Linked DNA regions of Homo sapiens: regions 1 and 2 are each linked to region 3. The links come from fine-mapping of genetic effects on gene expression. A gene starts in region 3. Each other region holds a variant in brackets. All regions are shown on one strand. Distances are between the middles of the regions. Region 1 has its middle 100 kb from the start of TAF1B. Region 2 holds the start of LOC124905969 (a long non-coding RNA gene). Region 3 holds the start of YWHAQ (tyrosine 3-monooxygenase/tryptophan 5-monooxygenase activation protein theta).

Region 1 (2,755 bases), 110 kb after region 3:
GGCCCCAGAGGAGCAGCAGAGGCAAGACTCGCTGTCCAGACTCCCTTCTGAGGAGACTGCGGTCAGGGAGCCCAGGCTGACCCTCGTGTTCTCATGCCTCGGTCCTGTTGATAAGAGGGAAGTCTGTGCTGGGTTCCTATCCACAAAGCCCTTGCGGGGAATGGGTCCCACACGCCGCTTCTGCAGACCCAGCTCATCCTGTTTCCGGTTTCTATTTTGTTTTTTCTTTTTTTTTTTTTTGATACGGAGTCTCGCTCTGTCGTGATCCGCCCGCCTCGGCCTCCCAAAGTGCTGGGATTACAGGCGTGCGCTACCGCGCCCGGCCCTGTTTCTGGTTTCCAATTCTCTTAGGATGTCAGTGCCTTTGATCCTCTGAGCCCCCGGAAGGGCTCAGCCCTCTCACATCTGCCTTCCTCCTAGAGGTGTGACGCCTGCCCTTCCGCCAGGGCGAGGCAGGGGAGTGACTTGGCGCCCGAGTCCCGTTTCCCGTCCCCTCTCCGTTGCCTGTGCTCAGAGCCAGGGACTCTGCTATTTGTAGGCCCCGCGGGCTCTGTCTGGGGTCTTTCCCCAGGGGAGGGTGTGCGTCCGGGAAGGAGAGGCAGCCTGGAGTTCCTTCTGGATACCGGCCAGGCCTGCGCTATTTGCCTGGAGAGGCCATCGGCATCACTGAGAAGGTCCCTGGAACTCGCTGCTCAGACACATATGTGGCAGCCAGTCAGGAGCTACGTTCTTCTTTGCTGGAAACAAGCAAGGATAGACTGTGATTTTCCTCTCCCTCTGTTGTGTATTTTTCACTCCTGTCTCTCCATCAACCCACCCACCCATCCATCCATTCATCCACTCATCCATCCACCCACCCACCCACCCATCCATCCATCCATCCATCCATCTACCCATCCACCCACCCATCCATCCACCCACCCATCCATCCATCCTACCATCCATCCACTCATCCATCCACCCACCCACCCACCCATCCATCCACCCACCCATCCATCCATCCATCTACCCACCCACCCACCCATCCATTCACCCACCCATCCACCCATCCATCCACCCATCCATCCACCCATCCACCCACCCATCCACCCATCTATTCACCCATCCACCCACCCACCCACCCACCCACCCACCCATCCACCCATCTATCCATCCACCCACCTGTCACATAGTGTGGCAAATACAACAACGACTCACATGTGGTTCCTGCCCCTACACCCTCAACACTCATACCCTAGTGGGGACTCCTCCAACCAACGAATGCAGAAGGTTTTAGCTCCCTGATGGGCATTTGTATTTGAAGTTGGGGGGTGGGGGGCTGCACAAATGTGCACAACTTAATAGAGGTCCTTCTGGCATTGTGCCAAAGTGAAGCTGAGGAGGAGTTAAATTTTTATGTTTTTTTGGTTGTTCAGCCTCTGTAGAGAGTCTCAAAAATTCTCGATGCCAATTATATTTCAAGTTGTCATG[A/G]CAAGCTATAGGGAAAAGTTTTCAATTAGCAATAATCATGTCTCAGGCAAACCTCATTGGCTATGGTACCGCCACTGCAGAAATCTGAGGAGTTATTTTTAAGCAAGGGCTCTGCCTTCCCAGCGTGTCTTAAATTTCTCCAGGGTGAGTCAGATCACCCCTGTTCTTGGGGACCTCTTACACCAGCTACTGGTCGCCAGGTCTAGGGGAGGTTAGTGACCTCAGCCCTGGAAGGGGAGCCTCAAAGTCACTGGTGAGCCTCAAAAGAGGCTGGCAGGGCTGCCTGCCCAGACCCATTTGCTACAGTTATAATGGGGAGTGTCCTTGGGTAATGAACTGCTATGTAGAGCTCCTGATTAAGCACTAATTAATTATTAATGCACTGTGTCATAATTTTGCCTGGCCCTTTCTATGCCAAAGAATTGTATCCCACAATTCCATTTGTGATCCTGCATTTTCTGATTTGTGGCCATGGTGGCCCCTTTTCAAGCTCACCTGTCTCTGCAGTGGCCAGATGGATCACTGAGGGTACATGCACCACGAGGTCATTGTCCACTGGTAGTAGGTGGCATGGATGACGACTCATGGGTGTAACGTGTGAACAACAACAGATACACCGGCTGGAGTCAGCCACACTTGGAATTCTGGCTGTAATGCTACTGTGGTTTGGATATTTGTCTCCCGAAACCTCATGTTGAAATTTGATCCCCGATACTGGAGGTGGGGGCCTATGGGAGGTGTTTGGGTCATGGGGACAAATCCCTCATGAAGGTCTTGGTACTGTCCTTGTCCTTGTTATAATGAGTAGGTTCTTGGTCTATTAGTTCCCTCAAAGGCTGGTTGTTTAAAGAGCCTGGAACCTCCTCCTCCTCTCTCTGGCTTTCCCTCTCCCCATGTGATTCTTACACATACCGGCTTCCCTTTGCCTTCTGCCATGAGTGGAAGCAGCCTGAAGCCCTCACCAGAGGCAGATGCTGGCACCATGCTTGTTGTACAGTCTGCAGAACCATGAGCCAAAGAAACCTCTTTTCTTTATAAGTTACCCAGGCTCAGGTATATCCTTTATGGCAATGCAAATGGACTAAGGCAAATGTACTCACCTTGGTGTTACCTCAATCATGTTACTTAACCCTTTGAGCCCTTCTCATCCATACAGGAAGGAGAAGAGTAGCACCTGCCTCACGTGTTTAACCAGAAAGAGGACCTCAGGCTCCAGTGATGGATCGGGACATGTCTTGTCCTGAGGTTTCCTTTGCTGTACTTCACTTGGGGCCATCTCAGGAAC
Region 2 (2,755 bases), 120 kb after region 3:
GAGGGGAGTTACTGGAGGGAGTACCCTAAAAACTCACAAAAAATGATTTCCTTTCTCTGCTTGTTGAAATTCTCCCTTCAAGGCCCAGTTTAAGTGTCACCTCCTCAGAGCAGCCCTCCTTGGTTTCCACCCTTCCTCACCCCTGTCAGACTCGTGGCTTCCTCCTCTATTCTCCCCAGTGTTCAGCATGTAGGTTGATGGTAGCACTCACTAATTCTGCTTTGTTTTACCTGTACTCAAGTTCATGGCTGTCTCCTCTCTGTGGTGGAGCTTTGGGTTGGACGGGTCTGGGAAGTCCCACCTACAGCTGACAGGCTGGGCTGGGCTCCAGGCCATCACAGGTCCCCCATCAGCAGCTCTCTCAACCCTGGCCTTGTGCCTACAGACCAAATGTGGCCAATGCGTTGAATTAGCAGCACTTTCAGGATCAAATCACAAAGCAACTCCTTCCTCTGTCCTGATTTAGTCAGGGGAATCACCTCTTCTCGGCCACTGCTGCAAACTCAGGCAATCCTATTACGTTTCTGGTTGCTCTTAGTTAATAAAAACTGTCTCACTGCAGGAAGGTTAAATGTCCCGTCCTGAATTTGAGTGAAAATGAAGTCTTCTTGCCTCTGCTGTCTTGAGCTTGCTGCAGGTAGGAAGCCTGCAGCTGGGAAGGGGCTTAGCTTTTCCCTCCTTCCTCACCCAGCTCACTGTCCGCATGCTACTCAGACATCCCCGCATCTGACCCAGCAGACCGCTCCTGCTCCTGCTCCTGCAAGTGTCTCCCCTGGCTCCTGTGAGGCCCACTGGCCTGGTGTCCGCTCTTTCTGAGGCTGTGACATTGGAGCTGTCTCTTTGGCTCTTCTCCGTCCACACTCTGTCCCTGGAGAGCTGCACCCCAGCAACATTCCCGTCTCTCCCTTCAACCCAGATACTCCCTGAGCTCCAGACTGTAGTTTCCAATGTTGTTTTCCAGTGTTCAACCTGACAGCGGCCGTTGGCTCCAAGGCTTCCTGAACTCAGTAACTGCCCCACTTAATTGCTGAGATGAGAAACCCCTGGTGGTGCTTGTTTTCTCTCTTTCGCTCCAAATCCATGCACAATCTAGCCCTGAGTTCTGCAGGCTCTGCAGCAGTGGTTCTCAGCCCAGAGGGACCGTGGCCCCCAGGGCACATTTGGCAATGTCTGGAGACATGTTTTATTGTCATAATTGGGGGTGGGT[A/G]GGGCTATGGGTTTCTAGTGGATTGGGGCCAGGGATGCTTCTAAATACCCTACAGTGCACAGGCCAGACCCCACAGTGAAGTGTCTTCCAGTCCAAAATGTCGGTAGCAGCGCCCCAAGAAACCCCGCTCTGCAGCCAGAATATGCACCCTGCACCCTACGCTCCTCCCGCCTCCACTGCCGTGGCCCGGCCAGACCCACGTCTCCGCTGGCCTGAGTGACTGCAATGGCCTCTTCCACTCTTGCCCTCCAGCAGACTGGTTTCCACCACGCAGCCAGCAGTGCCTTCCTTCCTTCCTTTCTTTCTTTCCTTTTTTTTTTTCTGAGACGGAATCTTGCTCTGTCACCCAGGCTGGAGTGCAGTGGTGTGATCTTGGTTCACTGCAACCTCCGCCTCCTGTGTTCGAGCGATTCTCCTGCCTCAGCCTCTTGAGTAGCTGGGATTACAGGCGCGTGCCACCATGCCCAGCTAATTTTTTTTGTATTTTTAGTGGAGATGGGATTTCATCATGTTGGTCAGGCTGGTCTCGAACTCCTGACCTCGTGATCCGCCCGCCTTGGCCTCCCAAAGTGCTGAGATTACAGGCATGAGCCACGGCGCCCAGCCAGCAGTGCCTTTCTAAAGCATGAGATCCTGCCCTTCCCCAGCCTAAAACCTTCTGGTGGCTTTCAGATGAGAACTGAACTCATCCTTGGCCAACAAGGCTCCGGACAGTCCCTGCTGCCCATCACCCTCCAGGCTCAGTCTCGGGCACGGCTGCCCTGGCCGCTCTCTTGTCCTTTGCTGGGGGACTTTGCTCTTGCCATCCCATGGGCTTAGCATGCTCCTCCCAGACCTCAATGCACCTCCTCATCTCTCAGGTCTCTGCTCCCATGACCCAACCTCAGGAAGCTGGGGGTGCGGTGGGCGGGCTGTGGCCCAGGGCAGGTTTGGGGCTGTGCTTTGTGACTCAGCGCTGGTTCACTTCTCTGCACTGGGGTGTGGTGGGGGTGATGCTGCTTTTAGTCAAAGCAGCTACAAAACTCCGAGAGCAAGTCGGCCGTTTTCTACATCTGGGCTGGCCGGGCTCCTTCTCGGATTTATCACAGGCGGGCAGCCGCTGACCCCTCCCTTTGCTATTGGAGGTGAGGAGAAGGAAGGGGACACGGGCCCTGGGAACTCGCCCCTGCTGAGTTACTCTACTTTTGGCAGCCTGAAGTTCAGGCTCCTGGCCCAGCATTGCAGGTTCTCCACTGTCAGGGTGGACCCCAGGCTCAGAACCCTCATCAGCTCAGGGCTCTACCCCCGCCTGGAACCGACCCACAGACCTTCCCTTCCGTCCCTTGGCTCAGGACGCAGGCCAGGGCAAAAGTAAGGGGCACAAGTGGGGAGAAAACCTGTGGAGGTGCCTGCTTGGTGCAGGCTCAGGCAGAGGCTCTGGACATGACACTTCCCCTTTAACTGACTTATCACGCCCAACTTCCAGGCTGTGTCATGCCCATTATGCAGAGAAGTGAAATGAATCACAGAGAGTTCATTAACGGGACAAAGCCTCGCAGGGGAACAGGA
Region 3 (2,755 bases):
TGTTTATGGGGGGTGGGGGGGAGCACAACAGATACTCTTACTTGAAAAATAAAGTATCTGTTCAGATTTTCTAAGTAAATTTCCATTACTGGGTTTGGGAAAAAATCCCTACTACATTGTCTGTAACAAAAAGGTGCCTGCGCCTTCTTTCAACTGCCTGAAGCTTGTGAACCGACTGAATACATTTAAAGGGCTCACAGATCTCAGGACGCAGTCTCCCCGCACAAGAAACTTAAAAACGCCTTTCAGTCTCGCAGAGACCTACTTGGATGTTTCCAAGTTCCATCGTTTGGTAGCTACCCAGCATCTGGGGCGAAAAAAAAGGACTTATCCTTGGAAAAGCGGCTTCTTGAGTCTCAACAACCGGAGGGACACAGTAGGGAAGTCAGGGCTCACCTAAAACCCTCCACCCCAGCAGACAGTCCGGCAAGCCCCGGCTCACGTTTGTTTCCGTGCCCGCGAAACTCTCAATGAAAAGCATCTCACAAAAGGCCTCCCCTGCTCCCCGCGCCGAGGACTCACCAGCACCGTGGTGCAGATGGATCTCAGCTCGGACTCCACTTTCTCCCGATAGTCCTTAATCAGCTGCAACTTCTTGTCGGAGGTGTCGGTCTTCTGCTCGATGCTAGAGATGACCCTCCAGGCGGACCTGCGGCCCCCGACCACGTTCTTGTAGGCCACGGAGAGCAGGTTGCGCTCCTCGTTGGACAGCTCGGCGCCCTGCTCGGTCACTGCCTTCATGCAGGTGGCCATGTCGTCGTAGCGCTCGGCCTGCTCGGCCAGCTTGGCCTTCTGGATCAGCTCAGTCTTCTCCATGGCGGGCGCGGGGCCGGGGCCGGGGCGGAGGGCGAGGAGAGCGAGGGCGAGCGCCGACCCGCAGCGGGAGGAGCCTCGAGAGCTGCGGAGGGGCGGGGCGGCGAGGCGAGAACAAAAAGCAGAGAGGGAGCGCCGTCAGACAATGCGGCCCGCCGCCCGCTTTTGTCTCCCGCACACGCGGCCGCTTGAATTTCCCTCTCCCCCGCCCCCTCCCCCGCTGGGCACCCGGGGAGGCCGCGGCCCGCGGCTGGAGGAGGCGGGGGCGGCGCGGAGGCCCCGCGCGCAGGGAGCCCGAGCCGCGGCCGCTCCCGCCACCCCCGCCCGGCCGGCCCAAGATGGAAGCGACCGTTGGCCCCGCACCTTCCCGCCCGGAGCCGTCCCTGAGGGGAGCGGCATCGACAACCGGCTGCTCTCAAGGGCGGCACCTCCGCCCGGCCCTCAATCCGAGCGCGGCCGGAGGAAGCCCGCGGGCCGACCCAGGCGCTCACCTTCACGTCTCCGCGGCCGCGACGCGAGTCCCACCACTTTGATCTGCTTTTGGCTTTAGCTGAGGACCCTCCCGTGTCAGCCTACCCCGGGGCCGAGGGGCGGTCCACCGCCCAATGATGCGCCGAGCTTCTCCCGAGAGTCCCGCCCCCAGCGCGCCGCTGGCCAATGAGGACCGAGCGCGCGGAAGGGGGCGAGGGGGGCGGAGCGGGAGGGAACGCGGAGGCTAGGAGGGTGGGTCGGTACGGGGAAGTTCGGTTGGCCGGCAGGCTGCGGCTTCGGCCACGGGGTTTCCTCCAATTAGATCCAGGGTAAAAGGACGTCACTGTTGCCATGGCGATGCCGTTACCAACTCCCCTCAGCCTCCCCGCCACCCCGGCACTTCTGGGTGCGGCACGAGACCCAGAGGCGCGCACGACCTCCTAGGCGGCGGCTGCGTCTCCCGCTGCGGATGGTGCATTGCATCTCACGGGCTCTGGCCGAGGCTGGACTTCGGAGGGTGACATATTCAGCTGTTTTAGAGCACGGGGGCCTTTCTTTCCTCCACCTTTCTATCCGTGACAAAGGTTTGGATCCCAAGACACTAAACCCAGACCTTAATGACGTTGCCATTAGGGCTCCGAATTAAGCAAACCGCATCCCCATTAAAGAAGAATTGATTCTGGAGACGGTGTCTTCAGTATGGCATTTACATGATAAATTCAAGTTTTCAGATGGGCATCCTAAAACAAAAAATTCCCTTGTGAAAAGGTAGGTCCCAGAAGATCCAGGGGAGTTTCTGTGACAATGCCAAGTATTGTGGTTTTCTTTAAAATGAGAAATGACATTAAGCACAATTTGCAGGAAAACACCTATTACTACCCCTTCCCACCCCCGCAAAAAAAAACCCTGCCCATAACATCTCTCCCCGCAAAAAAAAAGCAATTTTTATGTATCTTTTAGGCTTTCCAGGTTATGCACCTAAATACATCATTTTTCACATCGTTGTCACATGTGCACACGCTTTTGTTTCTGGTATTATTTGTGAGAGGTCACTTGAAAAGCTGAAATCCTCTCCCTGGATGTTGATTTCTGATTTTCTCCTCCTGGGGAACACCCTGCTGAAGCGAGAAAGATTCCCCCAGGCCCCTCCCATTCAGGGTCATCCCTGGCAGCTCCCTTTCCTCTTAAACCACTCCTGTCTCTCCTTGCACTTCCCCAGTTCCCTAACTCCATCCAGGTAGGGTGGCTGCCCTGCCCGTCTGGCGCGTGGTCCCTGTGCCATCTTAAGATGAGAATTGCCCTCTGGGTTCACGCTGCTATGATCCCGATTCCAGCAGGTCTAAGGAGAATGGATCATAAAGAATTTCCCATTCTGAGTGGAGACTGGAGCAAATCCGGAGAATCTCTAGAATGGGAGATTTGAGAGTGCAGACAGATGGGAGGAGAAGGTGCCGACTTTCCAGAAATTCAG

The links. PIP is the estimated chance that this variant, and not a neighbour inherited with it, causes the effect. A credible set is the group of variants that fine-mapping cannot tell apart.
Region 1: its variant is the best candidate, but not a certain one, in a credible set for the expression of YWHAQ in whole blood (INTERVAL, PIP 0.62).
Region 2: its variant is the best candidate, but not a certain one, in a credible set for the expression of YWHAQ in whole blood (TOPMed, PIP 0.77).

What each region holds. Positions count from the first base shown.
Region 1 is chr2:9,739,228-9,741,982 of GRCh38, forward strand. It overlaps the pseudogene RNU4-73P. Among named protein-coding and RNA genes, the nearest start is that of TAF1B, 100 kb to the right of the region's middle. The variant A/G (reference allele first, on the strand shown) is at 1,471.
Region 2 is chr2:9,750,638-9,753,392 of GRCh38, forward strand. It overlaps LOC124905969 (a long non-coding RNA gene), which reads left to right and starts at 2,195. Exons shown (of 3, transcript XR_007086205.1): 1 at 2,195-2,331. RefSeq lists enhancers at 88-167, 468-537, 2,430-2,755. The variant A/G (reference allele first, on the strand shown) is at 1,208.
Region 3 is chr2:9,629,637-9,632,391 of GRCh38, forward strand. It overlaps YWHAQ (tyrosine 3-monooxygenase/tryptophan 5-monooxygenase activation protein theta), which reads right to left and starts at 1,361. Exons shown (of 6, transcript NM_006826.4): 1 at 1,305-1,361; 2 at 523-898. The coding sequence starts at 816. RefSeq lists enhancers at 1-849, 593-692 and silencers at 813-1,162, 1,363-1,462, 1,513-1,682.